Linked DNA regions of Homo sapiens: regions 1, 2, 4, 5 and 6 are each linked to region 3. The links come from fine-mapping of genetic effects on gene expression. A gene starts in region 3. Each other region holds a variant in brackets. All regions are shown on one strand. Distances are between the middles of the regions.

The links. PIP is the estimated chance that this variant, and not a neighbour inherited with it, causes the effect.
Region 1: its variant is fine-mapped to the expression of XYLT1 in CD4 T cells (CEDAR, PIP 0.95).
Region 2: its variant is fine-mapped to the expression of XYLT1 in monocytes after R848 (Quach 2016, PIP 0.95). The same link has a PIP of 0.9 or more in monocytes after LPS and monocytes after Pam3CSK4.
Region 4: its variant is fine-mapped to the expression of XYLT1 in whole blood (TOPMed, PIP 0.97).
Region 5: its variant is fine-mapped to the expression of XYLT1 in whole blood (TOPMed, PIP 0.97).
Region 6: its variant is fine-mapped to the expression of XYLT1 in rectum (CEDAR, PIP 0.95). The same link has a PIP of 0.9 or more in B cells, CD8 T cells, monocytes and transverse colon.

Annotation. Positions count from the first base shown.
Region 1 is chr16:17,084,435-17,089,909 of GRCh38, forward strand. No RefSeq gene overlaps it. Among named protein-coding and RNA genes, the nearest start is that of XYLT1, 380 kb to the right of the region's middle. RefSeq lists an enhancer at 1-241. The variant A/T (reference allele first, on the strand shown) is at 2,679.
Region 2 is chr16:17,160,220-17,165,219 of GRCh38, forward strand. All of the region lies in intron 5 of XYLT1 (xylosyltransferase 1), which reads right to left. Among named protein-coding and RNA genes, the nearest start is that of XYLT1, 310 kb to the right of the region's middle. The variant C/A (reference allele first, on the strand shown) is at 2,521.
Region 3 is chr16:17,468,701-17,474,083 of GRCh38, forward strand. It overlaps XYLT1 (xylosyltransferase 1), which reads right to left and starts at 2,260. Exons shown (of 12, transcript NM_022166.4): 1 at 1,734-2,260. The coding sequence starts at 2,096. LOC107987234 (a long non-coding RNA gene) reads right to left here and starts at 1,727. Exons shown (of 2, transcript XR_001752091.2): 1 at 1-1,727. It overlaps LOC105371106 (a long non-coding RNA gene), which reads right to left. Exons shown (of 3, transcript XR_933144.3): 3 at 2,307-3,404. RefSeq lists enhancers at 1,040-1,309, 1,430-1,479, 2,254-2,755.
Region 4 is chr16:17,376,322-17,381,321 of GRCh38, forward strand. The region is part of intron 1 of XYLT1 (xylosyltransferase 1); the gene reads right to left. Among named protein-coding and RNA genes, the nearest start is that of XYLT1, 92 kb to the right of the region's middle. The variant A/T (reference allele first, on the strand shown) is at 1,930.
Region 5 is chr16:17,367,810-17,372,809 of GRCh38, forward strand. The region is part of intron 1 of XYLT1 (xylosyltransferase 1); the gene reads right to left. Among named protein-coding and RNA genes, the nearest start is that of XYLT1, 100 kb to the right of the region's middle. RefSeq lists an enhancer at 1,777-1,866. The variant G/A (reference allele first, on the strand shown) is at 2,124.
Region 6 is chr16:17,100,030-17,105,504 of GRCh38, forward strand. It overlaps XYLT1 (xylosyltransferase 1), which reads right to left. Exons shown (of 12, transcript NM_022166.4): 12 at 1,740-5,475. Among named protein-coding and RNA genes, the nearest start is that of XYLT1, 370 kb to the right of the region's middle. The variant G/C (reference allele first, on the strand shown) is at 2,547.

The DNA of each region.
Region 1 (5,475 bases), 380 kb before region 3:
ATGACAGCATCATGGAAGATCTCACTGAAAATGTGACCACTGAGCAAGACTTGAAACACAATCCCAAGTGAAGGCCTTAACATGGTGCACAAAGGTTGTAAATGCTAAGTACATGTTAGCTTTTATTTAATTTATTCACTAATTAATGTCGTTATTCATCTACTTATTTATTCATCTGGCTAATTCTGAATTACTTACTCATCCACCTGTCCATTCATCCATCCACCCATTCATTCTTTCATCTGACATTACCTGAAGGATATGAATAATATTATTTCTATATTCAACATACCAAGTGCCATAATAAAGGCAGATGTAGATGAGGTTTAGAGCAAAATTTCTTAGCTTCAGCACTACTATCATACCTGGTCATATGATTCTTTGTGTGTGTAGGAGGGGTTGTCCTGTGAATTATAGGATGTTGACAGCATCCCTAGCTTCTGTTCACTAGATTCCCATAGTACTCCCAAGCCGTGACAACCAAATATGTCTCCAAACATTGCCAAGTGTCCCATGGGTAGTGGGGTGGCGGCGGGGGAGGAATTGTCTTCAGTTGAGAATCCCACATTTAGAGGAACACCTTTCTCAGGAAGGAAAATTAATCTACTGCATTTCTCTAGAAAGGAAATGAATCTAAGACTTTAATTTCAGTAGAAATAATAGCATTTTCCAACATTTTGTTTCTTAGAGGCATATTTTCTTGTGCTGAAAAGCAGAAGGGACTTGGGGACTATTTGAAATTGAAAACAGAATCTTACCCCACAGGAACTCTTTGCATTGCCTTTGAGAATTGTGGCTCATTCAAAAAACATCTCCAAGGCTTACCGAAGAAGTGGTTACAACAGGGAAATCTTCACTAACCTGAAGGAATGCAGGCTCATGCTTGGTGCCTTTGGAATTCTTGCCTGATTTTATTGATGACTCCACAACTACAAAGCTCAGCCCAAGATTCCTCAATGGAATAACAAACAGCAAGACTTTCTCTCTAAAGAATTCTGTTGAGAGCAGCCACGTGACTTGATTCCTTGGAAAAAGAACCATGCCTTACAGGGTATCATGTCGAGGCCAGAGCAGCCATCTCTGCCTAAGGGCACCTTTCCAGGTCAATCTCTTCCAAGGACAGCTCCTGACTACTAGGAAGGTAACTTAACTTGCCCGGTTTCTCACTGCCCTGCATATATCTATTCCTGGAGACATCTATGGTGCAAGCAAGTTGTCTGGAAATCCTGCAGTGTCTTAAGCAGCTCTTGAATTTTACCATTTCCCCCCATTCCCACTGTATCTCTTCTTTCCTCCTCTCCCATCCTGGTCAATCAAGTCCCATTTGGTCAATCACGGTAGCTGAATAACTGTTCACCTCATTCCTATGGAGGGTTGCTCACTTCCACCTGTCCTCTGCACAGTAGAGTTCAGTCTTTTCACTAAACACAGACTTCAGTGCCAGCTCCGAGTCCTGGCCTGCAGGGTAATGCATGATCTGCCCTTCTCTCCAACTTCCACACCAACCGCTCTCCCTTCGTGCTCAATCTGCTTTTGTCCCCCCAGCCTCCTTAGCTCATTTACACTTTAAGACGCCAATAGGGTTATCTTATCCCCTCCCAGCACCCCCCAACACCAGTCAAATCTTTGCTGGTAGCCCATTGTTTTGTGGCTGAGAATCCTAACAAGGCTTCCAAGTCCACCACTGTCTGGTTCTTGTCTACTGTAACACCATCTTCCACTATCTCCCATCCCTGTGGTCCAGCTGCTGTGTCTCCTCTGCCCCTCATGTGCACAGGGCTCTTCCCACACTAGGGCCTTTGCTCATGTGACTATCTCCACTCTAGAAGCTCTTCCCTTCCCTGCATGCTGTTTAAGCCTTCACCATGTATCAAAGCTCAGATTCAGCCTCTATTTCTCATGAAGACTTCTCTTACCTCCCTGACAAGTTCCTGTGCCCTGATTATACATTCTTATAGCATTATATTCTCTCATTCACTGCTTCCTAGTTGCAATTTTATATTTATTTACAAGCTTATTATATTATCAGCTCTCATCTATCCAGTTTCTAAGCACCTCAAGAAATGGGACCATATTTGTTATGTTACCATTTTGAACTTAGTATAAAGTGCCTGACACATAGTAGGCACTGAGTAAATATTATATAGTTGGGAAATTGAATAAATACACCCCAGCACTCCTCAACTACGAAGACTTATGTTTGCAAAATTAGGCTAACGTGAGCTTTTCTGGAGCCATGGGGGAAGGGTTGAGGATGGAATAGACTAGAGAATTTGTAACTGGGGAGGTATGAGGGCAGGTCAGCATCAGGAAATTACATCACTTGACATTTTCTTACTCCCTTTTGTGTCTGTACCTTCATCTTATATTATCCAATATTACAAGCCCCTTGAATGTAGGCATAGAGCCTTTTATTTCTAAAACTACAGTGAGCACCTAGCCCACGACCTGGCATATAGTAGGTGCTTAACAAAGCTGCACTGAATGAATAGATGCCACGCATTCTAGATTTAATACAGACCTTACCATCTAAGCTGAGGTTCATTCAGGAGGGACTGGGAAAGGAATGTGAAGGCTCATGATTGTTATTTATTTATTTATGAGATGGAGTTTCACTCTGTTGCCCAGGCTGGAGTGCAGTGGCACGATCTTGGCTCACTGCAACCTCTGCCTCCCGA[A/T]TTCAAGCAATTCTCCTGCCTCAGCCTCCGGAGTAGCTAGGATTATCGGCATGTACCACCATGCCCGGCTAATTTTTGTATTTTTAGTAGAGATGGGGTTTCACCATGTTGGCCAGGCTGGTCTCGAACTCCTGACCTCAGGTGATTAGCCTGCGTTGGCCTCCCAAAGTGCTGGGATTACAGGCGTGAGCCACTGCGGCCGATCGTTATTTATTTATTCATTTATTTGAGACAGGGTCTGGCTCTGTTGCCCAGGCTGGAGTGCAGTGGTGTGTTCATATCTCTCTGTACCTTCAAACGCCCGGTCTCAAATGATCCTCCCACCTCAGCCTCCCGAGTTGCTGGGAGTACAAGCGTGCACCACCGTGCCTGGCTAATTTTTAATTTTTTTTTTTTTTTTTTTTTGTAGAGACAGGGTCTTAGTATGTTGCCCAGGCTGGTCTCAAATTCCTGACCTGACCTCAAGTGATCCTCCTGCCTTAGCCTCCCAAAGTGTTGGGATTACAGGTGTGAGCCACCGTGCCCAGCCAAGATGGTTATTTATTAGGAAAACATGGTACATTGAAGTTTTTCACAAAACATACGACAGAAAGAGCCTGGATAGTTTTTCTTTTTAAGCTAACATTTATCAAGAACATATTTTTTTTTTTGCCAGCCCTGTGATAAACGCATTATATGCATTATCTAGTTAATTTGTAGATGCTGCTAAATTTGCAGATGAGGAAACTGGGGCTTGGAGACATTCACTTATCAGTCTAAGGCCAGAGAATAGTGGCAAAATTAGCATTCAAACTTGGGCCTGATTTTAAAATTCATGGGCTTAGCAAGTTTGCTACAAGGACTCTTGCGCTAACTCTGGGTTCATAAATGAGTCATCCAACACCTTTTGCCTTCATGCCCTCACCCATTGGATAGATGAATCCATTCCTACTCACATCTCAAGGCTAAATGAAAGAACGCGTGTTTGTGAACAGGCATCAGAATACATATAACTGGAAGGGGTGCCATAATTCATTTATTGTGTTCTGGCTCCCCACCAGCCTAACAGGGCCTGTTATTATGTGACCTCCCATTGCTTAAGCCTCTGATAAGACAGTAAGTCTGTATACAAGGTGACCATGAACTGCTACCTGCTTTCCAATTGCTGTTGGAAGAGCTCCTTATACCTTACGAGGCTAAGAAGATAGAAGAGGTATTTCGCTCTGGTTTTGAGCAATTTGTTCTACTCTGTGAACTTCTGTGTCTGCTTATCCAGTTTCATGAAAATTAGATTAACGAGTACTAATTGGTGCTGACTCCGCTAGCTTAAAATGGATGGTGTCAAATGGAAGAGGAGCCCACCAGTGTGATGTTTGGATCCCAAAGCTGCTGGGAATTAAGTTTCTGCATGGATGTCGATATCATAGGTTACTTGTGGCAGCTTGCTCCAAGCTACTTTTATGGAACACAGTGTCACCCCCACAGATCTTTGAAAGGAGGAAGGATGCTTTTTCCAAAGAGGATTTGCTTCAGATGATTTGGTCAAAATGCTCATTCATTCGAGGAATCTTTTTTGAGCACCTATTAGATGCCAGGCTCTGTTTTGGACTCAGGGGTACCAGTGGTGAATAAAACAGGCAAAGTTCCATCCACATTAAGCATACATTCTACCTAAGGTTGGTAGACAATAATGAAGTAAATATATAATGTCAAGCAGCATTTCCATCTGATACTTGTATATTGATTAAATATGAGATAAACACATATTTTAAAAATGCTTTGTTGAGATATAATTCATATACCATAGAATTCATCCATTGAAAATATACAAATCAGTGGGTTTTGGTATATTGAGTTGTGTAATTATCACCACAGTCAATTTTATAACATTTTCATCACTCCAAAAAGAAACTCAGCAATCTTTAGTTATCACCCTCCTATACCCCATACCCTACCTCCAGTCCTAGACAACCACAAATCTACTTTATATATAGATTTGTCTATTCTGGATAGAGAAAATATCATCTTTTGAGAGTGAGGAGGCATGGGAGGAGACTTTACTGTCCTCACCTCCCAGATGAGGCATTTTGGATTTAGTTTTCCTTGGAGCTCCCTCTAAGATCCAGACTTTTAATCGCTTCACAGGCTCAGTTTCTGGGGGATAGTAGGGGTGCTGGCCAGTGTCCTGATACAGATCCTCTTTTTTACCACTTTACCTTTCACCTCTAAGTCCTACTTGAGATAACAGGTGCAGAGCCAGTCAGCAACTGAGAGTAAATATGCATATATGGAAACAGAAGACACTCCAGTCAGCTGTGCAGTCACATCTCCAAGCAATAAATAAGCACATCATGTTTATAGAAGCCTCACTGTAGTCCAAATTACTGTAATCTCTTACCTGGACTGTTTTAGTAGCCTGGTCTCCGGTCTCCCCATGTTTCATCTTGCCTCTCTTTCAGCCTGTTCTTCCCAAGATACCACAATAAATGTTTCAAAGTGTGAATCTGTCCATGTCACTCTCATGCTGATGAAAATCCCACATAGTCCTCAAGGTAGTCAAGGCTTTCCTTTATAGCCCCTGAGGGCCTGCAAAACCTGATCCCTGGAAGCCTTTCCGGCATCATCTGTCACTATTCTTCCTCCAGTGTCTAAATCACTTTTAATTCCTGCGAAGTGTCACATAATCTCTAGCCGGCCTTTGCCCTCTCTGGAACATTCTTTCCTACCTGCATTGCCTGACTAGCTTCCATATGCCCTTCAGGTCCTAGATTAGAGATGACTTCCTTTAGTGGGAGGCCTTCCTTGTTTCTTCAGGATG
Region 2 (5,000 bases), 310 kb before region 3:
ACATGCCCAGCACCTAGTAGGCCCATCATGCATATATACTGAATGGACAACTGGGTGGATTTAAAGGGCACACAGTAGGGGCACAATCAATGCACGTCGTCCTGCTCTGCCTCCCAACTCTTTGGTCTGAGCTGCCCCTACTGCTCACCCCCTCCTTCATTTCCCTGCGCCTCTGCAGTCTCGCCACTCCAAGCCCCTGTTCTCTCATTGGATGACTCATGTTGACCAACTCATAATTCCAGCGGAGGGGGCACAAAGCAGTTAAGAGAGGCAGCAGTGAAAATGAGCGCTGCTCGTGTCCCATCCTATTACTGAAATAAACACCAATTCAAAACCAGCCATTCTAGCAGCGGCAGGCACCAGAAACACCCCGTGTGTCTGCAGGGAGTTGAATACAGCACACACACGGAAAGCTAAACCTTGCTGATGGGCACAGAGGTGAACCCAGGGGATGCTCGCAAAGGGCTAACCCCACGTGTCCCTACAATGGTGCATCTCCCGCGTGGTTAAACCCCATCGTGCATGCCAAGGTAAAGTCCACTGGTGCCTCCGACACTGTTACCTGTAGTTTGTGGGGACAGAGCCTCTTTAATAAGTCGCTGGGAGAGGTGGAAACTAAATCGGCCTATAAAAAAATTTAAGCAATGTTTCTCTCCAAACCATAAAGAGGCCCATTCCAACTGCGTTTTAACAGCTCTTATTTACCAACCCCCTCACCACTCTCCGCAACAGTTCATTATTGTTGTCCTGATGAATACGAGACAAGTTAACCTCTGAATGGGTCCCCGGCAGTTGGAATAATAAATAAGGTCTCTCAGACACCCTTAGTGGGAGGATTGAAGGGGCCGGGCCGGGGCTCCTGGGCCCCCTTCTCGTGAAGCCTCAGGTCTCCCAGGGTCAGCGGCTGCAGTTCCATTTGGCAATCCCAGAAAGCGCCTTTCAGGGCTGTGAGCTGGGGCCATTTTCACATTTACCGCTTCACCGAGTCCCCATCTGACGGGGATGAATAGGCATTTAGCGAATTTACTTAGCGATGCTTCCACATGAAATCGTCTCAAAAGATGACATCTTGGGGGAGGGAGGGTGGATGAGGAGGGGGCTGAGGTTTCCAGGCCCAGAGCTTTTGGGCAAAGCCGCCTTTCAAAGCCAAGCGCTGTGTGCTTGGCAAAGGATCCTGATGGATTGTCTGGAAGGGTGGGGCGGGGGGACCCCTGCCTACCCCCCTTGCTAGGGTCTCGGGCCCCTCGCTCTCCCTCTGTGTGAAATGCTTGCTCTGAATGCTAAAGCCCATCCCCCCAGTCCTTCTCCAAAGGGAGATGGAATTTGGCTGAGGACCAAATTCTCCTATTGTTGCTTTCAGACGCCTGTCGATAATTGCCTACATAATATTTAGTTCTCTCCAGATAATTAACAGCTTGCGATCTGGTGACATTTTACCCCGTTCCAGTTTCTCGCGCGCTCTCTCTCTCTCTCTCTCTCTTCCACTCACACACGTTTCTCACTCTCTTTTTCTGGTGAAGTCATTTGCCAAATGGTTCCCATAGTTCATCTCTTGTATCTATCTCATCATCAATTTCCTCCTACTTTTTGCTGAAATGATTAGAAATCATGTCTCTTGGTCTATGCCAGTTCCTCTGCTTCCTGAGGATAACTGGGGCCTGTTGCTACCACCATGGGAGTCACTGGGAAGTCTCTGCTGAAATAAGTAAGAAATAAATGTTAAAATAAACTTACTGGGAGCCATATGAGAATCTTTTTCGAAATGAATAAAAAAATGAGTAATACAATAATCTCCCAAGTCCCAGCCATTTACTAAATGTGCACCATGCCCTAGGCCATGGGGAAAGACTTTTGCCACATTTTATTGCATTTGATAGTCACAATGATGCTAAAAAATGTAAATTTTGGCTGGGTGTGGTAGCTCATGCCTGTAATTCCAGCACTTGGGGAGGCCGAGGCAGGTGGGTCACTTGAGGTCAGGAGTTTGAGACCAGCCCGGCCAACATGATGAAACCCTGTCTCTACTAAAAATACAAACAAATTAGCCAGGTGTGGGCATGTACACCTGTAGTCCCAGCTACTCAGGAGGCTGAGGCTGGAGAATTGCTTGAACTTGGGAAGTGGAGGTTGCAGTGAACACAGATCGCTCCACTCCACTCCAGCCTGGGTGAAAGAGTGAGACTCTGTCTCAAAAAAAAAAAAAAGGAATTTCACTTCACTCTCATTTTACGGACGGGCAACCGAGACTTAGATAAATCATCCATTTAGTAAAGTGCAGAACCAGAACTGGAACCTGGGGACAAATGTCACAGCTTGTGTTCTCTACTACGAGACTGCCTCTACAAATGATAGTGAATGAACGAGTGAATGAATGAATGAATGTATTCCATTTCAAGTGCAGAAGAAAAAAAATACAGGCGCAATAATGTCTTCCTCTTCATAGCCTGGTCTGCAGCCCACTGCTATTAGAAATGCCATACTTCAGGCCCCACCCAATACCTATTGAGCAACAGAGCTCAC[C/A]CAATATCTATTGAGCAAAAATGTGTTTTCAAACAAGATTCCAGATGATGCATGTGCTCTTTAAAATTTCAGAAGCATTGCTGTAAGTCATGTATGACTATGAGTAGTTAATTCTCTGCTTTCCATCTTTATCTGCTCCTCATGGTTTCTTCTGGAGAACCCGGACTATGAATGAATTACTTTCATTTCAATAAGCCTTAGGTCTTGAGAGTATTAAATAAAAACAATGCACCTAATATCTGTGCCACAGTACTTGGCATATAGTAATCCCCTGATAAATGTCAGCTATTATATAATAGCATTATTATTACCATCTTGAACATCAGAAGCTTAAGACACCTTGAACTGTGGAAAACAGTGTAAAGACCCAACCTGATTTGAACTTGGAAGGCTTTCTGTGCATAAGACCCATGGAATGTTCTGCAGAGCATAGTTTAAGAGATGTCCAAGGCCCCTTCCTGGGGATTTGTCCAAGGTCCCTTCCCAGCTGGTGTCAGACTTAGGGACTGGCTCCCAGAGGGCCATGGCACCATTGTGTGTGTGTCTTATCTATATAACAGCTCTGGACATGAAGATATGAAGGAAGAGAGGGCAGAGTTCTCAGGTTCCCATAGCACCCAGGAGCCCAGGCTGTATGGAAAAGGTGCCCTGGGCACACAGAGGCACACAATGCCTGTTTGCTGGTGGCATGTGACAAGAGATGAAGCCTGCTCAGCTTCCACTAGGAAGGAGCCCAACACAAAGCCAACTGCACCTCTCTGGGCTCCCGGTGCCCACCTGGCACTCATGCCCCAGAACCCCTTCCCGACTGCAGGATACTGTCAAGGACCCTGCCAGAGGTGCTCACAGCCCAACGGTGAGGTGACAGGACTAAAGCCAAAGTTATACGCAGGATTTTGTGAATGTCAGGATTCAGGATTTCAAACCTCTGATGCTGCCAGGTGTGCACAGAGCCCAGGGGACACTGGAGTAAGTCCTCCTGGACTGCAATGAACGACCCATTGTGGGGCAGAAACACACATGAAAGACTATGGGGAGGCCAGGCATGCCTGTAATCCCAGCACTGTGGGAGGCCAAGGCGGGTGGATCATTTGAGGTCAGGAGTTAGAGACCAGCCTGACCAACATGGTGAAACCCCGTCTCTACTAAAAATACAAAAATTAGCCAGGTGTGGTGGCATGCGCCTGTGATCCCAGGCTGAGGCAGGAGAATCGCTTGAACCCAGGAGGTGGAGGTTGCAGTGAGGAGAGATCGCGCCACTGTACTCCCACCTGGAAAACAAGAGCGAAACTCTGTCTCAAAAAAAAAAAAAAAAAAAAAAAAAAAAAAAGAAAGACTATGCTGGTGCATGAGGGACTGTGAAGTCAGGCAAGTTGAGGAAGTTGAGGGTTGAGGTGCTTTCAACCTAAGCTGAGAATAGACTACAACAGTGTTTCCCCAACTTCTGCTTCTAGTGTACCCATAATCTTTAAGTTATTTCATATGTCTATTTAATTTAAATTCTACTTTAGCTTTATCTTATGCACCAATGTTTGTGATATTTGATGTCACAAATTTTTTTTTTTTTTTGGAGACAGAGTCTTGCCATCTTAACCATTTTTCTGAGATCAGACGAGGTTGGGTGTGTTCAGGGTGATATGTCTGTAGACCATCTTAACCATTTTTCAGTGTACAGTTCAGTGGTACTGGATGGATTCACATTGTTGTGCAACCATCACCAATATCCATCTCCAGAACTCTTTTCATCTTGCAAAACTGACACTCTCTACCTGTTAAATAATAATTCTCTATTTCTCTCTTCTATAGCCCCTGGCAACCCCCATTCTACTTCCTCTCTGCTATTTTAACTATTCTAGGTACCTGACATAAGTGGAATTGTACAGGATTTGTGTTTTGCTGGCTGACTTATTTAACTAGCACCATGTCCTCCAGGCTCATCCATATTGTATCATACCTTAGAATTTCTTTCCTTTTTAAGGCTGAATAATACTCTCTCATGTACCACCTGTATGTTATTTTTTTCCCTGTTACACATTAAAAACATTAACGACCACGTGTCTGTATACTTCTTAAATCAACTGGGCTACCAGAGGCACATATGGAAGAGGTCAACTGTCCTGGTTTGCCCAGGACTGAGGGAGTTCCCACAACACAGGACTTTTAGTTTTAAAACTGGATGGTCCTGAGCAAATGAAGATGAGCTGGTGACCCCAGGCACATGGCTCCATTGAGGGCTGTGTAACCACAGGAGAAGTGCACACTCCACAGAGGCAAAAATCTCACCCTCCTGTGATCAACCCAATGTATAGAAAACAAGATAATGGCAGGGCCTATTGTAACCTTTTCCTATGCCTTTAAAATCATTATGAAAGCTTAGATCACAGCAAGATAAAGACTGAAATACCAGCAATAGCAACATCATCATCATCTAACACTTGAATGCCTCCTATGTGGTATTTGCATCTATTAACCCACTTAAT
Region 3 (5,383 bases):
ATTTGTTTCAACAGGTGCTACATGCATCCTAAAGGTACCTCCTGAACCCACTCTGACCCCCAGATGCAAATGATACAGTAAGCCCCAGGCTTCCCCCACCATGTCTCCCCTACACGTTCTTACACTGGACCAGCAGGACACGACCCACAACCCTCCCACCCCACCTCCTGGGCTCTGGATGCACAAAGAACTTCTAATTGCATTTCTGCGGGAACCCATCACTATCAACTCCAAGAGTTCAAAGGCAGCGTTTCAGAGTACCCCTCTCTGTAAAGAAGAGATCGCAGGACACTAGGAATGTTCTGGTTCTCCGTCAGGCAGCTCACGCCACTATTCTCCCCGCAAATGAGGGAAAGACTTCTCCCTGCTACCCACACAGCAACGTGAAATGCCATCACATCACGTCTTGGGACTGGCTCAGTTCTCAGGCATGAAGAGCTGCACTCCGGCAGAAAGGGTCGCACAGACTCCGAAGAAGTTTAGCAGCTCAGAAAGCATCACGCTGTGTACTAAGGCAGTCTTCAGTGAGGACTTCCAAAGTGACAAATGATAGAAATATGCATTCAGTCTTCAGGATCCTGAAACCATCCCCCTGGTGTCTAATATCCTTTAACGGCTAGGCAAATCCTTGCAGACAAGTAGTGTGATGAAGAAACAGACAGACACACAACACATTGGCTATGCCCTAAGGCAGAACTCACGCCCCTGGAGAACTGAGACCTTGGCTCTGAAATGGGGACTCCGGCCTCCTGCCCCATGTGCTCCTGCTCCTAGCTCAGTAGGCTGGGCAAGGCAGCCCAGAGAAGGTGGGAAAGGTATCCCTGGAGAAGTTAGGGACAGGGTAGGAAGACAAGTCAGTTCCCCACCCAGCCACCCAGATGGCCCCAGATCTGCGGAAAAAACAGTTTCAGAGCCCTGACTGTTCACACCCACGAAGGGCAAAGTAATCCCATAGGAGTGGAAGCCCTGACGGTGTGGTCGGACACACAGCTGGTGACCTGAACCGGCCGCAACAAGACAGAAAGACAGAGACAACCAGCTAGGAGAAGGAGCCATGCCCTGAAACTGGAGATGGGGAGGAGATAAAGTCACAGAGGGCATGGGAGACGGCAAGGTTAGAGACAGAGAAGGTGAAGACGGAAGGCTCAAACATCCAGAGAAGAGAAACAGAAGACCCAAAGTAAGACCAGACACCCCGGACTGAGTATTGATTCAGGGGCATGGTCGGGGACTTGGGACGCCCAGCTCAGCCCTCATCGCAGGCCAGGACGAACAGAGGGCTCAACTGTCTGCACCCAGCTCGGCAAAAACCAGAGAGATGCTGCTGCGACAACCGCCCAGGAACAGCGGCTGAGGATCCGGGGAGATCCACTCACTCAGGCAGGGAGCGAGTCACCAAGACCTACACGCACGGAGCAAGTCACCTGGGGTCCCCAGCAAGAGTGATGGGGAACAGGAACCCAGCCAGGCTCCGGTAACCCCCAAAGCGCCCCCGCTGGAGAAAACTTCCCCCAGACCCCAAGGGGTCCGTGCTCAGACTCTGAAAGGGGCAGCCCACGACCCCTGAGCCTTGGCAGGGACCCCACCCGGCTTCCCGGGGCAAGAGGCGATGTGGAGTCGGTAGGCTTGCAGAGTCCCAGTCTGATGACCGAGTTCAAGGGCTAGGGGGGCGTGGGGTCGGGCTGCCTTCCTCCCTCCCTCGCCGCGGGGCGCGAGCCGAAAGGGCATCTTACCAGAGCCCGGGCGGGCAGTGCCCCCCGGCTGGCCGGCTGCTGTCCCCGCGGTTCTCCGGGGCCGCCTCCCCGCGCCCGCGCCTGGGGCCCCCGTCCTCCTCCTCCTCCGCCGCCGCCTCCTCCTCCTCCTCGGGCTGCAGCCGGCTCGGCGGGCAGGTCCCGGCGCTCCCGGCGCGGGGCCGGGGCCGGGGGCGGCTGCTCCCCGCCGCCGACCGCTGCGCCCCCGCGGCGCTCCCCGGCCCCGGAGTCGAGGCTGCTGAAATTCCACACGACCAGCGTCTGCAGCAGCAGCACCGTGAGCGCCGCGAGCAGCGCCGAGTGCGAGCGCCGGGCCAGCCTCCGGGCGCACGGCGCCGCCACCATCTTCGGAGCGCGGCCGGCGAGCGAGGCGCGGGGACCCCGGCACGCTCCGGGCCGCCCCCGCGCTCCCCGCAGCTCCCGCGGCCGCCGGCTGCCGCTCGGGCTCCCGCTCGGGCCGCCGCCGCCGCCCCCCTCCCCACACCCCTGTCCCCGCTGGAGGGGAGGGTGATGGGGAAGGCGCCGGGGGGACGCGGGCCGAGGCGGAGAGGGCGGGGCCTGGGGGAGGAGCCGAGGGAGGAAAAGGAGGAGGGAAAGGAAGGGGGTGGGGGCGATCAGAGAAGACAGACACCCCTCAGGACGTAGTGGGAGTAGGATGGGGGGCGAGGGGGACAATTCCCAAGGCGGAAAAAGAGAGGCAGGGGCCGCGAAACAGGGGACCTTTGGTTGAGGGTGGGCCCGCTCAGAATCCAGGGGAGGTCAGGAAGAGAGGGGGTCCCGAGGTCCTGTTTTCCCTGTGGGCCGCTGGAAGGAGGCAGTGCGTGGAGGAAGCTCCTAGCCCCGGAGTTCGCGGTCCAGGGATCTTCTGTCGGTACCAGACCGGTTGGCAGGTGGACACGTGAGAAACATTTCAGGAGTGTCAGAGCCACAGTCTGATCCCTTCATCCTGGGCTTGAAGGGGTGGGGAGGAGGCTTTGGGTGAGTTTCTGGAGTTAATCAGCACAAGCTCTGTGAGTGACTCCTGAATCACACACAATCCCCGGTGCCAACGATGTACTAAGTGTTCACTGAGTCACTTCTCTGGTCCCTGAGGACTCACAAGCCAAGAGACTCCAAACCCAGTTGGCAAGTGGTATAGCGGCAAAAGGGAGACCCGTGGAGTTACTCAACCTTCGCAGGATGCAAGCCCCAAAGGCTGGCCCCGCAGCCTCCCAGCGTGTCCTTTTCCCCATCCATCCTGAAGTCCCCCTTCCTGTCTGCACAGGGCCCAGGTCCTGGGGAAACAGGTCTTGCTCTTGAAAGTGGAGTTCTTTCCCATCCTGACTGGTCTGTCCCGGTGACCTTGAGCCAGGAGGAGGAGGACTCCTCCCTGAGCCCAAGCTTTCTCCTCTGTCGTTTAGGCAGAATGATCCCAATGGACTCAAATTTCATCCCGAGCCTTCTCTGACTCAGTCTTTCTGGTTTTTCCCTCCCTTGTCCTCTTGCCCAGGGCTTTATACACAGCAGCGCAGAACAGTGAGCATATGGGATGGCGTTGGTGTCCCATACGGGACCTAGCACTCTGGGAATACAACAGCAGATCAAATCAGTTTGTGAATTGAGGACTTGGCGTGAATGCTTCGCATCTTGTCTGCTGTGCTTTTTCACCTCATCCTAATTTACAAAGAGAAGAAAGTGGAGTGTAATGAAGGCTCATCAGACAATGAGGCAGGGAGTGGGAAGAGATTGTTTCATCCACTCCACAAGCATCCGTGAATACAAAGCTTGTGTCAGACACTGGGCCAGGTGCACGCATCCAAAGGTGAATGAGGTTTAATCTCATCTTCAGCAAGCCTGAGGTCTAGAGAAGCCTGATGTGGATGTTAATCATTAAAATATAGTGAGATAGGCCTGGGCGCGGTGGCTCATGCCTGTAATCGCAGCACTTTGGGAGGCCAAGACAGGAGGATCACCTGAGGTCAGAAGTTCGAGATCAGCCTTGCCAACATGGTGAAACCCCGTCTCTACTAAAAATACAAAAATTAGCCGGGCATGGTGGCACACACCCCTGATCCCAGCTACTCAGGAGGCTGAGGCAGGAGAATCTCTTGAACCCAGGAGGCAGAGGCTGCAGTGAGCCGAGATCACACCACTGCACTCCAGCCTGGGTTACAGAGCAAGACTCCATCTAAAAAACGTATATATAAATATATATATATTGTATATATATATATTATATATAATGTATATAATAAATATATTATATATAATATATTTATATATATGTACATATAATATATATAATATATAATATATAACATATATATAATATATATATTTATATGTAAATATATATAATATTATATATATATATATGGTGAGATAAGCATTGCTGTAGAGATGTGCAAAAATGCTAAGGGTTCATGAGGGCAGGACGGGAGTAAGCGCCAAGAAAAAATGCTTTCTGAACCCATGTAATTAGCCAGTCCACTTGCCTGAACAAGAAAAGTATAAAATGTATGCTAGTGGGGGTTGTAAACTCCAAACCAATCAACCTTAGTTGTATCTAAAGCTTAGCCAGGCATGTAGCCTGGCATAGAGGCCTTCCCTTTGGGCCCAGCACCCCTAACCAGGAGTAAAAGACCAGAGGCAAGTTTCTAGGGCCACCAGTCATCTGTTTATCAGTTGGGGATATTTTGTTTACAAGCAATAACATCTATTACTAACAGTAATAAGACTTAAGTCTATCTTTTAAGTCTTTTTTTTTTTTTTTTTTTTGACACAGTCTCACTCCATCACCCAGCCTGGAGTGCAGTGGTGTGATCTCAGCTCACTCCAACCTCTGCCTCTTGGGTTCAAGTAATTCTCATGCCTCAGCCTCCCGAGTAGCTGGGATTACAGGCATGTGCCACCACGCCCAGCTAATTTTTTTTTTAGTACAGACGAGGTTTCACCATGTTGGCCAGGCTGATCTCAAACTCCTGACCTCAGGTGATCTGCCTGCCTCAGCCTCCCAAAGTGCTGGGATTACAGGCATCAGCCACTGTGCCCAGCCCGGTCTGTCTTAAAAATATACTTTACTGGATCATGTAGCTGAACATTGCAGAGGAAAGGCTTCAGGTGAGGTTTGATCTAGCAACTCACAATTATCACCTGGGATTCCTTTTCTTTCCATCTCTCCTCTCTGCTTTCCATGGAGTCTACCTTATTCCCTCTTGATGTCACACGATGCCTGGCCTCAGCTGCTGCGACTACTTTGTATCCTGTGTTCATTTCTAGCCCAGGGAAAGGAGGGTCAGTATTTCCCAGGATTTTCCTCAAAGGTTCGGAGATTTTTTTTCTGATTAGACCAGTCTTAAGTTCTGGGTCACTCCGAGACCAATCAGTGTGGCCAGGAAGTTAGAAAATGCCGATCAACTTGGCCAAGATCCCATATTTCACCTCCGCCATTGGGGTGAAGCCAGCCTCCCTGTAACAACTTGGATGCCCTATAGAGATCAGGGTCTGATGGGAAAGAAGTAGGTGCAGGGAACAGATTCCATCATTTATTCCACGCAGCCTCCCGAGGTTATATGACCTTGGCCAAGCCACCTCCCCTCCCAGGACTTAGATTTCTTTAGTGCCAAATGAGGGGTTGGAGGAGACAGCCCCCA
Region 4 (5,000 bases), 93 kb before region 3:
GTATGGGGCTGAGAAACCCCAACCTAAGAGGACAGAGGTAGGCCAACCACAGCCAGCCAAGCTTGCAGGTTGTGTCCTTCCAGACCCTTCCTCAGGGTACCAGCCACTCAAACTAGAAGCCAGTGCTCAAGAGGATGGGTGATGTCTCTTTTGCTCACAGCTGCATCTGAAGGGCCTAAAACAGATTTGGTGACTTGTCTTTTCTGTTAAAGAACAGGGACCTGGCTGGGCACAGTGGCTCACGCCTATAATCCCAACACTTTGAGAGGCCAAGGCAGGAGGATCACTTGAGGTCAGGAGTTCAAGACCGGCCTGACCAAGATGGTGAAACCCCGTCTCCACTAAAAACACAAATATTAGCTGGGCATCATGGCTTGCACCTGTAATCCCAGCTACTTAGAAAGCTGAGGCAGGAGAATCGCTTGAATCCGGGAGGCGGAGGTTGCAGTGAGCCGAGATTGTGCCATTGCATTCCAGCCTGAGCAACAAGAGCAAAACTCTGTCTCAAAAAAAAAAAAAAAAAAAAAAAAAATAGGGACCAAATGACGAATGAACAAGAAATGCACCCAACCAGGCCAGGTGTGGTGGCTCACACCTGTAATCCCAGCACTGTGGGAGGCCAAAGCAGGCAGCTCACTTTAGGTCAGAAGTTCGAGACCAGCCTGGCCAATATGGTGAAACACCATTTCTTCTAAAAATACAAAAATTAGCCGGGCATGGTGGCACATGCCTGTAATCTCAGCTCCTCAGGAGGCTGAGGCAGGAGAATTGCTTGAACCCGGAAGGTGGAGGGTGCAGTGAGCCAAGATCGCACCACTGCACTCCAGCCTAGGTGACAGAGTGAGACTCTGCCTCACACACACACACAAAATTAGGTACTATTCTGGGTCTTGTTTTTATAGATGGAATAGTCAAGGCTCAGATTAACTAATAACTCACCCAAGATCCCCCAGCCAGGAAGAAGGACCTGGTTCTAGTGCCTATGTTGTTAACCTGCCCATCAAACAGACCTGTTGGGACCTCATGAGGCCAGACACTAACCCCCTGTCCTCAGCTAGACATGGCGATAGAGTTCCCATTGTCTGGATGGCAGAATCTTCCCATCACTGCAGTGGTTCAAGACATCCAGGCTCTTTGTTTGGCGGGACAGCCAGCCTGCTCTATTCTCAGGGGAAGGGCTTTGAGAATGGCTTATTTAGCTCACTCCCCAAGAAGCTTATCACCCCAACCCCACCCCTGCCCAACAAACACATTCCCATCAGGAAAGCTGGACGACCCTGCCTTCCATGGAATGGAAGCTATGATCCCATCCATTCAGTTCAGCCTCTCATAAACGCTCTGTTCCAAACATAACCAGAATAGTCAGGGAGTCCTCGAAACCCAGACATGACTTATTTTCTATTTCTAGCTTAACCACGTGATGCCTGTGAGTTTCAAGCACTGGAGCATCCCCATTCACGCTGGAACCATCTCATCTAGAAAGGGGAGGGTGTACAAGCAGCTCTGGATCAGCCCACTGGGGTTCAGAACAAGCAAAAGAATTTCTTTACCTCCCCTGAGTTTCAGCCTCAAAGAGCAGCAAAGAACCTGGAGCCCATTAAATCCAGCTGTGCTCATTGTACAAAGGGAAGAACTGAGGCTTTGGAGGACAAAGAAGATACCCAGATGATCTGCATTGCTCTTTTTCTCCCTTGCTTCTTTCTCTCTTGTTGAATTGGAATAGGTCAAACCTGTCTACAGTACTCAAATGTCACGGGGGTTTCCTCCACTAGGCATGGGGCAGAGCTTATTCTCAATAAATGTTCGAGAATGAAACGTCAGCAATTAACTAGCAGGCAACTTTGGAGAGGATTTCACTTCCCCTATAATTAAACACAACAAATGGCACGAATGTTGAAGGGACAATATGCATGGGTGTGTGTGAGAAAG[A/T]GGAAGAGACTGCAGTTCCCATACCAAATAGGTATTTATTTGTTCCAAGACTTTTTTTTTTCACCAAAAAATGCTTTAATATAATCACCTTTTAAATAATATACACTGTCATCTTGATTATGTCTATTGGGCTTACTCAAAGAGGCCAGGACCTTGCAGAGAAATGAGCCTGAGGTTTCCTTCTGCCAGGTCACCAGTCAATGGATATTTCCCAAAAGGTGGATCTTTTAATATATGACTGCATAATTTAACCTAAAATCCTAGTTAGTATTCTAGCAAGATGTCTCCTTCTAATTGAGGTAATTTCTAGGAATATGTTGCTAAAAGTTTCCTTTTCTTCAAATAAAGCAATAACTGCCATTTATGAAGCACGTATTAGGTGCCAGGTACTTCACTGGCCTTAACTCTTTGTAACTCATGTTTTCACCGTCACGACAACACTGTAAGGCAAATTACGACCAGTTCACAGCCAGGAAAACTGAGACTGAGGCAGAAAAGTAACTGGCCCAGTGCTGCAGAACCAGTAAGAGGCTGAGCTGGGGTTAGAACCTAGGAATGACTCTCAAGTCCAAGCTCTTTATACTGTATTCTCCTAAGCTCAGATTAAAACCCACTCCATCCCCTACTTTCTTAGTATTTCTTCATAGACAGAATATTTCAAGGAATTTAACTTTTACCACAAGGGATACAAAACAAGGAATGAGAGGACCTGTCTTACCTCCGCTTTATCACAACCACTTTGCAAAGTTACTGAGATTCAACAGCTTTGTCTGCTAAATGGGCACATAGCCCTTCAACCACTCCTTTGCTTTGCTGCCAGAAACAAAGGAAAAGGCAGGAAAAAAGTGCATATTTCTTCCAGAATTGTCAGAGGCCAGCAGATCTTCCTGCAGGATGTCAGCCTAAGCAATCTTTCAAATGCTCCCCGGGCAGGCAGCCCAACCCACCACACTCCGCTCCAAGGAGACACCTCCTAAAATAAACCCTGCTAACTTCAGTTAGCTCACCCTAAAGACTATATATAGAAGAAAAGACTCAGGAGTTCCCATTTGGCAGCAGCTTCTCCAAAACTCAGCGCAAATGGCTGATTTCTAACTTAATCTCCAACATCTGACAGGCGGCTTTAAATCAGGGAGGCCGACTAAGAGATGGAAAACCTCTGTGAGGCCAGCCCAGCCTGCCTGGGGGCAGAGACACCCCAGGGCTTTTCAGCAAACTGGAATGGCATGAAAATGGGAACCTGGCCCCCGGAGGATGCGGGAGAGAAATTAGACAAGGTGTGGTGGGTGGGAGCAGGATCCAGCCCAGCCAGGCCACTGGGCATGTTGTGGGGGTAGCTGGGGGTAGAGGACAGTGATCTGTACAGAGGCACTGCTGTGAATTCTGAATCTTGGTGTCTTCTGGGCCTCATGTTATCCTAGAGAATAACAGAAAGCCAGGGAAAGCTTTGAGTCTCCACATCTATGAAATGAAGGATATCTCTCTCTCTCTCTCTCTCTCTCTCTCTCTCTCTCACACACACACACACACACACACACACACACCCCTTACCTCCAGAGAGCCAGACATTCACTCTCAAGACACTTTTGAAAATACTGGTCTTTCCAAAGACCATCATTTGTATTTGTATTTGAAAGATTGCTTAGGCTGAATTCTGTAGGAAGACCTGCTGGCCTCTGATAGTTCTGGAAGAAATATGCACTTTTGTCTCCATTTTCCTTTGTGTCTGGCAACAATGCTAAGAGGTGGTTGGAGGGCTGGGAGCAGTGCCTCACACCTGTAATCCCAGCATTTTGGGAGGCCAAGGCAGGCGGATCACTTGAGGTCGGGAGTTCGAGACCAGCCTGGCCAACATGGTGAAACCCCATCTCTACTAAAAACACAAAAATTAGCTAGGCATGGTGGTGCACACCTGTAATCCCAGCTATTCGGGAGGCTGAGGCAGAAGAATCACCTGAACCCAGGAGGCGGAGGTTGCAGTGAGCTGAGATCATGCCACTGAACTCCAGCCTGGGCGACAGACCCAGAATCTGTCTCTAAATAAATAAATAAACAAATAAATAAAAATAAAAAGAGGTGGTTGGAGCGAGATGTGCCCATTTAGCAGACGAAGCAGTTGACTCTCAGTAACTCTGCAAAGTGGTTGTATATCCCATGGAAGGATATACAAGAAATTGTTAGCAATGATTCCTTTAAAGACAGAGACTGGAAAAGAAGGAGAAGTCTCCTATTTTATATCCTTTTCTCATGGGGGAATTTTGTTATCACATGCTTATACTCCTTATATTTAAAAAGCAAGTGTCATTCACAGATGGAGGGATAATAAGGTGGCTTCTCAAAAAATTAAATATAGAAAAACTAGATGTCAAATGCTATATAATCAGCAATTCCTCCTCTGGGTTCACAACCTAGTGAAAAGAAGGGGCTTGAACAGCTATTGGCATATCTGTGTTCAAAGCAGCATTACTCACAGTAGCTAAAAGGGGAAAGCTAGCCTAGTGTCCCTCCTGGAAGATCTGCGTGGATAAACCAAATGCAATACACACATACCATGGACTAGTCAGCCTTAAAAAGGAAGGAAATTCTGACACATTCCGTGACAGGGACAAACCTCAAAGACATTATTTATGCTAAGAGAAACCAGCCAGTTACAAAAGGACAAATACTGTGTGATTCCACTTATAGGAGGTACTTAGCGTAGTCAAAATCATAGACACAGAAAGAAGAATGGCAGTTTCCAGGGGCTGGGGGTGAGAGTGGACAATGAGGGGCTATACTTTGTTGTCGTTGTTTCTTTTTTTGTTTGTTTTGGCCTGCAAAGCGTTTTAGAACTTTTCAATTAATCGCTAATGTTTGAAACTCAGAAAATGTAAACAAATCTAGAGTGAGAGAAAGCTCATCAGTTGTTTGCCTGTGGATGGGGTTTGGGGAAGAGGGAGGTAGTTATTGTAAAGAGAAATAAGAAAATCCTGGGGGTGATGTTCATTATATCCAATAATTTGGGGTGATGATGTCACAGGTGGATACAGATATCAAAACTCATCAAATTTTACACTTTGAATATGCATAAT
Region 5 (5,000 bases), 100 kb before region 3:
ACCTGAATCAAACCCATCACTGTTTGGTGAGGCATGGGAGATCCAGGAGGAAAGGCCTATTTCCTAAGGGCCACACACAGTTTGGATTAAAATTCAGTGTAGAATGTCAGTTTTTTGATACCAAATCTGGAGTTCATCCCATTTTGCCAAAATAAATTTCTATGCACATCCCTCCCTGCTTTTCTTCACTTCCTCCTCTTTTGCTCCTTCACAAGAGCCTCTGACCAGGACATCTATTGTCGAAGATACAGGAAAACTGTGATTCAGCAGTGCTTCGCGTCTGGAATGACTCCAAGAGGCCACACACAGAACTGCCGACACAAACCACGGGGGGCGGAAAAAACGATCCCAGGAGGTGGGGAGTGGAGAGCTTTGCAGTCCCAGGCTACAGCTCGGGATGTAGAGCTGCCTTCCTAGGACAGAAGAGAGACGATGAGAACACCTGGCTGGAAGGTGGCCCTGCAGGGGACGGATGGGCCTTCTACATTTAGAGTCAGGATGGAGTCAGAAAGCTTCAGCAGGGGAGGGACTCTGCCTGCAGCCTGTCCCCTCAACCTCCTCTAATATTTCTTAATGAAACGATAGTGACAATGAAGATGACAGCCTTGATGACAGCGCCCAGTAGACCGCTATCATTGGTTAAGTCCTTATGAGATACCATAATTCACCATTTATGAGCATTACTTCAATAAACCCACATTCTATCCTCATGAAGTGGCTGTTCCCAGAAGGCCATAAAGACTGGATAGATAGATTTTTTTTTTTTTTTTGGTTTTTACTTTAAAAAAAAAAAACGACAGGGTCTTGCTCTGCTGCCCAGATTGGAGTGCAGTGATGTAATCATGGCTCACCACAGCCTTGAACTTCTGGGCTCAAGCAATCCTTCCACCTCACCCTCCCAAGTAGCTGGGACTACAGGCCTGTGCCACCACGCCTGGCTAATATTTCATTTTTTGTAGAGATGGGGTCTTCCTATGTTGCCCAGGCTGGTCTTGAACTCCTGGTCTCAAGTGATCCTACTGCCTTGGCCTCCCGAATTGCTGGAATTGCAGGCAAGAGTCAGTGTGCCCAGTTTGCTTTTTCTCTTGATGACATTAAGTATTTCCTTGTTCCTGGATTATGAATACCCTGTAGTACTGTTCCTAATTTATATAGGAGGAAACTGAGGCTCAGAGAGTTTCAAAGACTTGGTTGAAAGCCACAGAGCCAGGCCCATTTAACCTTAATATCTTCAGAGAGGTTTAAAAAAAAAAAGAAAAAAAGGTAACCAAAATGCTTGGATGTGGTATGGTGTGATCTGCATGGTGCACAAAAATACTTCTTTTTTTTTTTTTTTTTTTAGATGGAGTTTTGCTTGTCACGCAAGCTAGAGTGCAGTGGCGTGATCTCGGCTCACTGCAACCTCCACCTCCCGGGTTCAAGCGATTCTCCTGCCTCAGACTCCTGAGGAGCTGGGATTACAGGCACATGCTACTAAGCCTGGCTAATTTTTGAACAATACTTTTTTTAAAATTAGGTGCCAGCATTTAAAATTTAGGGTGAAATCATGATATTCTGATTTGTGGCTTTTCGTGAAATGTGGAAAGATCTGACCCACTGGGTAGGCAGGTCCACTTAAGGCAGGCACATCCCCTTCTGTTTGCCACAACCCCACCCTGCCCACCTGGGCTGAGCCCTGAAAGCATCTAAGTTTATGACCTTCCTATCTGTTCACCACCATACCTTACCCCTCCCCCACAAAGGAAGGTACCATGTTACCCCATGAACATGACTCCAACCCTCACCCGCCAACCTCAAGAAGAAAAATTCGGGATCCCGTGACTTCACAGCAGAAACAGAAAAACTCAAATAATCCATCAGGAAGTTGAGCACTGAGGTTAATACACACAGGACCATCTTCCTCTAGCTCAACAGTCTTGACTTTTCAGGGCCGTGACCCAGAAGGGAGGTGCCCGTGCAGAAGGCAGAACAGGAAGAGGTTCTTAGCACCCACTGTTTTCTCTTCCTGCACAGCCGCCTTGGGCAGCTGCCTGTGAACAGCCTGGCTGTTTTTCTCCTAGCTCTCTCGGAAGGAAGTGCTCTCATCACCCACGACAACAGAGTTGGCCCGAGGAGCCAAAAAC[G/A]TGCAAAGGGGCTCCAAGCCCAGCTCTCCTTCTGTTCGGGGCAGCCTCAGAGACAGGAAGATGGGAAGAAAGTATGGCCTGGGATAGAACATCCTGCGAGACCCTTACAAAGCCCCAGCTGTGGGGGAAGGGAACAACAGGAGGGGGCCAGAGGAAGGGGGTCCAGGTCACACCAATTTTATACAATGAGCTCCTTTCATCCGTGAATAGAGGACTCTCCTTAACTCTGTCTCAATGGCTTTGTTTCTGAAACGATCAATTCTACACCCAGAAAGCCAAATTTGCCAGACCTCATGCCAAGGTCAGGCAAGAGCCTGAGATCCCCCAAGCAAGTTGATAATCAACACGCAGGAGACGACGCTGTGCTAAGTCCCATTTGGCGGATCCAAAGCTTACAACGATCCGCTTTCATTTCTACGCCTTCTGCAGTGGGGCGGGGTTGGGGGACCCTCGCTCACATGCATGCCACGCTTGGTGGAACTGTAGGCTGTATTCAGGAGAGTAAGTGTTACTTTCCCAGGGACTTCATTGAGACATCTGCGGGGAGGGCAGGATGAGAAAGAGCTGGAGAAACAAGATGCAAGGTAAAGTGTGTGGTCTCACACTGAACACGTTCATGAAGTGGTGGGAAGCAACCCTAGTGACTCAGCAGTGGCCTCTGTTTAGCCAGCACTTTGAGAACACGATCTTCATGGGCTGACTGCAGAGGTGGCCAACAGAAACTGGAATCTACAAGCAGTATTCAGCTCAGGCATAGTTTGTTCAGCCTGCACAATGTTTTAAAAAGAACAACAAAAACCTACATAGGATGCCAATACTTCACATTCAGGAGGTTTCCCATAAAACTGCAAAGTTCTGGCATTTTTTGGAAAAATCAGAAGACCTAGCTACACAAATCCAGCATTTTCCTAAGGCACTGCCTTTCTGGCACTGGAAAGCAGCTATCTCCCTTAGAAGGGTCACAGGCCCTCCTGCTTGCCACAGTCCCCGCCCCAGACACATGTCCTTCACTTACGGCTGCCAGTGTGGCTGCTGTGGGCATTGGTGTTTGTAATCTCTGGTTTAGTGGATCCTAAGCTAAGCCCAGCACTTTCAGCTGGAGGACCTGAGGTTAGAGAGAAGGACGGGATATGAACCATAGACAGGTTGTAAAGTAACGTGGCTGCAAAGTCCAAGAATAATTTAACTCAAGAAGCACCTATGAATGCACACCCAGGAATACAAGGCAGAGAGCAAAGTTGACTCCCATGGATAGGGGTGAGAGTCCTGTCTTCTCATCAGCCCCTGCTACATACTTTTGACAACTTGTCCCACTTCCCCAGGACCAGGGACTATCTTCTTTGTTTTTATGCTTAATGAAGTCCTAAGACTGCCACATAGAAAGCACTTGGTAAATTCTTGCTGAACCAAAATCAACGGAAACCCAATTCATGTTATAGGTGGAATCTGAGAGATGTATGCTGAGAACTCAGCCAACTTCTGAGCTGTAGGATGTTTTCCTGACTGTAAGTCAAGGCAAGTCCTCCCTATAAAGAAGAGTTTGGGGTATAAATGACACAGCAGAAGGAGACAAGCTCAACCTACTGATTGGCTAATGTCTGAGATGAGGAAGCAGAAAGGTTAGTCTTTATAGGATATGTAGCATATCTGATGAGCTATGGTCTGTTAGGAAGGTACTATACGTACTAATTTCATAAAATTGAAGTATGTTCCAACTTATCAAAGGATGCAAAAACTCCACAGAAGGAAGGAAGGACCTCATGTGGTGGCAGGTGCAGCATATTTTACTGCAACCTTTCTAGGTCTAAAAAGGTAAAATGAGGTTTATCACATCTGCTTCTGCTGTGTATAGCCATGGCTAGTTTTCTCCAGCTCTGTTTATTAAGAGACAGAGAGAAAGAAAGAGAGAGTGTATGTGTGTGAATATGCATGTGTGTACACACACATATGTGAGCATCCACATGCACATACAGGTATGCATGTGTGGTCTCTTTCATTCAACACCCCCCCAAAAAAAGTTGCTATGGGATCTGTAGATTTTGTTTGCTGAGTATCCCTAATTTTGGAATTCCCTCTGTTCTAAGTTGCCCCATTCTTGGTACTAATTTCAAATGGCTGTGGGGGAGGGGAGGCTAGCTTCAGACAAGATTCCACTAAGAGTTTTACTTCTGAGCTGGGATAGAAGCAGGAAAGAATAACAGGAAAAACATGCAGCATCCCATCTCTGCACTTTGCATTTAGTTATAATTATTCACGCAGGAGCATCTTTAAACACCAAACGAGGGAAATATTACAGTTGTTCTGATTTCACATGCTAACTGTGTTTACATGCTAACAGCATTTCTCAGGGACAATTATCTTATTACTAGTGCACTAATCTTTTCAATCTTTTCAACACATTTTACAGCTGCAGACTTCAAAAATTAAGGCTAATTAAGACCTTGCTTTCAGCAGGTACAGTAAACTACTCACATTCCAACATGGTAAAAGAAAATCAGTTTAGGGGAAAGGGTGTTAGAGGGGCACAGTGTCAATGGCAGACAGAATACATTAGATAGCTTCCATCAGTGTGAGGACTACAACTCTCCCAATGCTAATGTTCAAGAACAAGTTCCATTAATGGTAAGGCCTGTCGAATTCAGGACCAAGGACAGCTGGTCTGGCCCATTTTTAAGAGAAAGTGGGTATTTTGCATTCAATTATCCGTTTCCATTCATTATCTTCTTCCGTGTGACTTCAGCATAGAATAGTGGCTAAGAACATGGAAACTTGTATCAGAGTCTCTGTGTACAAATGCCGGCTCAATTATTTTCCGTTTGAACTTGAGCAAATTACTTGAGATCTTGGTGCCTCAGTTTCCTCATATGCGAAGTAGGA
Region 6 (5,475 bases), 370 kb before region 3:
GGCCAGCCATACCTCCTTTTTGCCCCAGCTCTAAGTTTCCACCCTTACAACTTGCCAACACCAGGTGGACTGAATTATTCTTGGTTTGGTCTCATGCTCAGAGACCCAGCCTAGAACTCAACTTTCAGCACCTTGGCAGCAAGGCCTCAAAGCCAACCGTACAAAAAGCCTAGATGTTTTCAACATCGGTGTGGTGTGACTTCAAAGCATGGTCATCTACGTATCCCATGGAGCCATGAAAGAGGCGGGCTGGTGGGGGTGGGTGCACTTGCTGAGACAAAGCTTTCTACTCTCACTTCACCCAGGGCACCCCTCCTAATCACCCATTTTTAAGTCTTTTTTTTTTTTTAAATATATATATATGTGGAGGTTTAAGGTACACTGCTTGAAAAAGCATTCCCCTTAAAGAAGAAAAAAAAAACTCTTAAAATCACGAATTTAATGAACTTAAACCCAGTAAATAAGCAGGAAAGAAATTCCAACTGACCCTTCAGTAGGCCCAGAAACCTCATTATTGAAGGTAAAAAATCACAGCTTACTTTACAATGACCCATATTTTGACAAATACTATCCATCAAATGATGGTTTTAAAGACAGAATCTTGGACAAATGGCCCCATGCCCATATTGTTAATTAATTAAGATATATGGTCTCATTCACTTGTCCGTTCACTGAATATTCACTGAGTGCCCATACGCTGGACTCACTGTGCTAAATACTGGAGGTACCACAGTGAATAAGATAACTGTGATCCTTACTCCTACGCAGATTTTAGAAATTTATTCTTCCCTTGCAACTGAACTCATTTTTTGAGGAATTATCTCCGGGCAGAGGAAAGGGAAGTTGGCTGTAAGATCAGGCTGGAAAGAGGTTTTGACAAATGAATCTTGGGTCCATCCATCTGTCTAAATATGGAGTCAGTCACCATCTCTCCTGAGCCAAGCTCAAGGAGGCTGAAGCTGACACAGCTCTCCATATATTTGCCCCTCTGTGTGTCTAATGGGGAGATATCTAGCCTATTTTGTTCTAGCTGCTAAAATCCTATCTGTGTCTCAGTGCCTGTCTTCCTTTAAGGATTTTGAAGGGTGAATTAGAAGCATCTTTACAACCCAGGCATCTAGGCTCCCAACCCCTGGGCATAGCCCTCAGAAACCACATATATACATAATAGTGAGCTAACCTCAGGGGTGGAGGAACTGGTCTTCCCAGTGACTTATGAAAGTCTCATTGGAAGATGGGAAACTTTGGTTCTAGACTTGACCCTGATGACCATGGGTAGCTTCAGGCAAATCCCTTCACCTGTCTGGCTCTCTACTTTACCGACTGAGTGAAGGAACCAAAATGTGGATTTTCCCAAAGAAACATTTGAATTTCCATTTCTGATTGGATTAATTAAGGTAAGGCTAGCCTGCTGTAATTGAAAGTCTCAGGGGCATAACAAAATACATATTTATTTCTTTTCATGTCATAGTCAATAGGGGTGACTCTGGTCAAGCATTCTTTTATGTGGCTATGCAGGGGCTCAGTTACCTTCCAAACTGTGGCTCTGCCTTCCTTTAAGGTAGAGGCTGTGCAAAGTTTCCAAAAAGACCACCTGAATAGGCCAAGTGGATGAATGTACAAAATCAAGGTGATTCAAAACATCTGAGCTGGCAAATAGGGAAAGATTGAGAGAGGAGAGACTCCAGTGGGAGGTTTTAGGGACCAGGGCTAGAGGTGCCATGTACCTATTCTACCTACATTCCATTGGCCTGAGTCAGTCACATGGCCATGGCTAAGAGCAAGGCAGTCTGGAAGATGCAGTCTAGCTGTTCCATTGGCCTGGTCACATGGTCACAGCTAAGAGCAAGGCAGTCTGGGAAATGTAGTCTCTGTGGTAAAGAGGAAAGGAAAACACGTTTGCCAACCAACCAACCAGTTGGGTATAGGAAACTGCAACTTTCCATGGCAGTCCCTTCTTGTTATTCTCTACTCAGTACGGGTTTAAAAATCATATACTTCTGCCTCAACCAGGAGGTACTTATAGGAGGTTGTTGCTATAATCCAGTTAGAAGATGACAGCAGTTTTTATGAGGGAAATGTGTCCACACACCCAGGTTTTCCCAGGATAGGCCATTTATGCCTGCAGTCTCAGCATCCCATCCACGTGGTGCTTCCTTTAACTCTCAAAAGTATCCCAGTTTGGATGATAAATTATATAGTCATCCTATCTTCACCATGCAGATGACAGAAGAGAATATGAGATTGTGTAAAGATGCACAATGTTGCTGAAAAGAAGCCACATATAGTCACTGTTCCATAAAGGCAGTGTTTTTTTAATTTTAAAATTCTGCATCTGAAAACACAGTATGACAGAAAGCATCTATATACACCTGCAGTGTTTTTGGTATGATACAGTATTTAATACATCCACTGTTTTCTGCAAAAAATGTTGCTTTGTCAGACAGAAACAAACTCCCCTAGACAAAAAAATACAGCTAAGGCACAATTTTGTTGTTGTTGTTGTTCTGCAAAATAAAAAGACAGAAAAGGTGCAAAAAAGGGCA[G/C]GTAATGCAGTCATTTCTGAGACTCACATTCTACCTCAAGGAAAAGCATTCAGATGATTGGAACTTTGATTACTGGTCAATTTCAGATAGTTCAATATCTCTTAAAATACTCCTTTAAATAAATAGCAAAATATCTACATATTTCAGCGTGTGCCATTTGAATTCTTTTTTTAAAACTTTATTTACAGATTTTTTTTAAAATCAACACATTACAAAATATTTCTGTACAGTTTTATGCATATTATGATCTATAACAAAATAGTTATTTTTAAAAACTATATCACCACATGTCTTTGAAAACAATGAAGGGGACGGTAATAACTTAGAGTGAGGCCTCTAAAACAAATACCCAAACAAATGCTATTGACAACATAATATTTAAAAAAAAAAAAGGCAAAAGGACTACAAAGACAATTGCGCACAATTCCAGTGAATTTCCTATGAAAACCCTGGGGTTGTCTTTGGCCTCCATCAGCACTGGAGCAATGGAAGGGTAAAGAATAGAGTCTGAAGGTAGGGAAAGGGTGATTCCTTTGAGAACACTACCCATCTGCTGGGAATATTTAGTGCTATCACTTTCCAGGCAGGAAGGACGAAGAGATAAATGGAGAACGTCTCCTGATTTACCCTTGAATGAAGTACATATAAAGTCACCCAGTCTTGGGGGCAGGGGAGGTCTGCAAAGCCTTTTCAAGCACTCTGCCGATAATTAAGCCAGCCCATTACAGCAGCAGTATGCTCTGAGAGAGTGCTTCAGGAGTTGGCTGAGCTTTAGATGAGCACCCAAGCCTTCATTTTGCCCATAGGAAAAATATAAGAACATTTTTCTTAAAGACGACATTTGTAAGCAATTCCTATAGCATCTGCCAACTACAGATTGGCAGCCCCTTCCTTAGGAGGCTGCCACAGAAGCTTCACGATGCTGTCTTCTCTGATGTTGGTGGAGATGGGAGGGAAAGGATGGATGGTCAGCTTCCCAAAAATAATGTTAAGGCCACATTTCAAAAAGGAGAAACCTAAGGCTTTTGTTTTGTTTTGTTTTGTTTTTGAAGGAGGGATGGGAGAAGCAAGTTGGAGGAACATGAGGGATGGAGTAGATGACGTTAGGGAGGGGGATGACAAGGTGCAGAACCCGCTTTCTGGTGGTATCTGTAGGCAGAGGCAGTTGGAATATTCCCAGCCAAGTGGAGAGGGAAGAGAGGTCACTTTCTCCCTGCATACGCCTGGTAAGACCAGAGCCAAAGACAACGTGAGGGGTAGACACAGGTGGCGCAAGAAAGCCCTCCTCCATCTTAAGAGGGTCCTATACAGTATCTTGTTTGCAAGGTAAACACAAAACAAAACAAAACAAAACAAAAAAACTTCTAAGAGAGCCAGAGAGGAAGAGAGAGAGGAGAGAGAGAATTTGCATAGATCATACATTCAGCTCAAGCAGATTTGGACAACTTTGTTCCCCCCTCCCAGGTAAACTTCTCAGCAGACACAATGAGGTAGCGCCTGTGGTAGACCCATGGGCAAAGTAAGGTAACTGAGGCAGAAGCAAACAGGACATCCCGTGAGCCAGCACAGCTCTATGTGGTTTCCAAAGAGGCTTCCAGGGATGGGACAAGATGGCTGTGTCAACACTTGGGATTTGGAGAGAGCCTGGCTGTTTCACACCCTACCTCCTCCTCCTCCTAGACTGTCTTTGCCATTTCGGCCTGGTTTGATGGAGTCCCACAAGCTGTAGCCCCAGGCAGATGTGGACCTCTGCATATCTAAGGGGCAGCAGTCCAGATCTCCAGATTCTATTCCTTCTTCCCTTCAGCACAATCTTGGGACCAGGAGAGCTGAATGATCCATCCCCCCTCTGTGGAATGGTCTCTTGAGGAGTGGAATGACTTAGCAAGAGGTCCCCATTCCGAGTTCAACATGGGCTGTTATTTTTGCCCTGACCTGATGCTGGCTTTTTTCCTCTTCTACCAGGGCAATGCATAATCTCACTTTAAACCACCTCTCCAGAGAGCAGAGGTTGCTGGCAGTGTACACGTGGAACAGTGGAATTTTTCTTTGCCCACTATCTGTTAAAAAAAACAAAAACAAACAAACAAACAACCCGACGTTGAAAAATCAGATTTTTTCCATTAAATCTGGATTTCCGGCTTCCCTTCCAAATTGGAAGATTCCACTACACTGTGCTTACATTTTTACAAACAATGACAGGTTGGGGCTGAGTAGCAGCTGCTCATTCTGGGTAGGTCACGTGCATGCCAGTAAGACCACAGTCCCCATCCTTGCCCCCACCATGCCCTTTTGCCTCACACCAACCATTTCACGCATCTATGCTAGTATTCTGGGCCCCATAAACATTTGTAACCCCTACCACAGTGTGTGGCTTTGATCCTGCAGGTCTAGCTTGCTGTCTTTAAAGTGGAGTGTGTTAACAGCTGTTTCTAGAATGTACACCTCTCCACCCCTAGATGTACCCCTCCACCTGAATGTACACCTCTCCACCCCTCGATACTGCTGGGAAGCTGGTGCTCCAAATCCTCAGTGAACTTGGTTGTGAAAGGACTCTTTATTCACACCCCACTGCCAGTAGCTACTGCCCTGCTCTCTGCATCTTTTTGGCAGAAAGCTTAAGGTTCTAGCCAGTGTCTTCTGTGTTATCTGCAAACTAGAGAACCAGAGGGAAACATGGTCTTCAGACACCCTACTTGTGCCCAGAGTAGAAGCAATTGCAGTGAGTGAGAGATGGGGGCAGGTCCTGTGGTTCTGCTCATCCTCTCTAAACTCCATTTGCGTTTTAGAAGTTAAACCCACAATGAGAAATGAAGCCGGAAGGACTCATGATCTCACCAGGAAAGCCTTTTTTTTCCCCTGCAAAGGGAGAAAGCAGCGCGCTTCTCACAACACGGGGACCTTGGGAATTGCTCACTGCCTCCTTGGA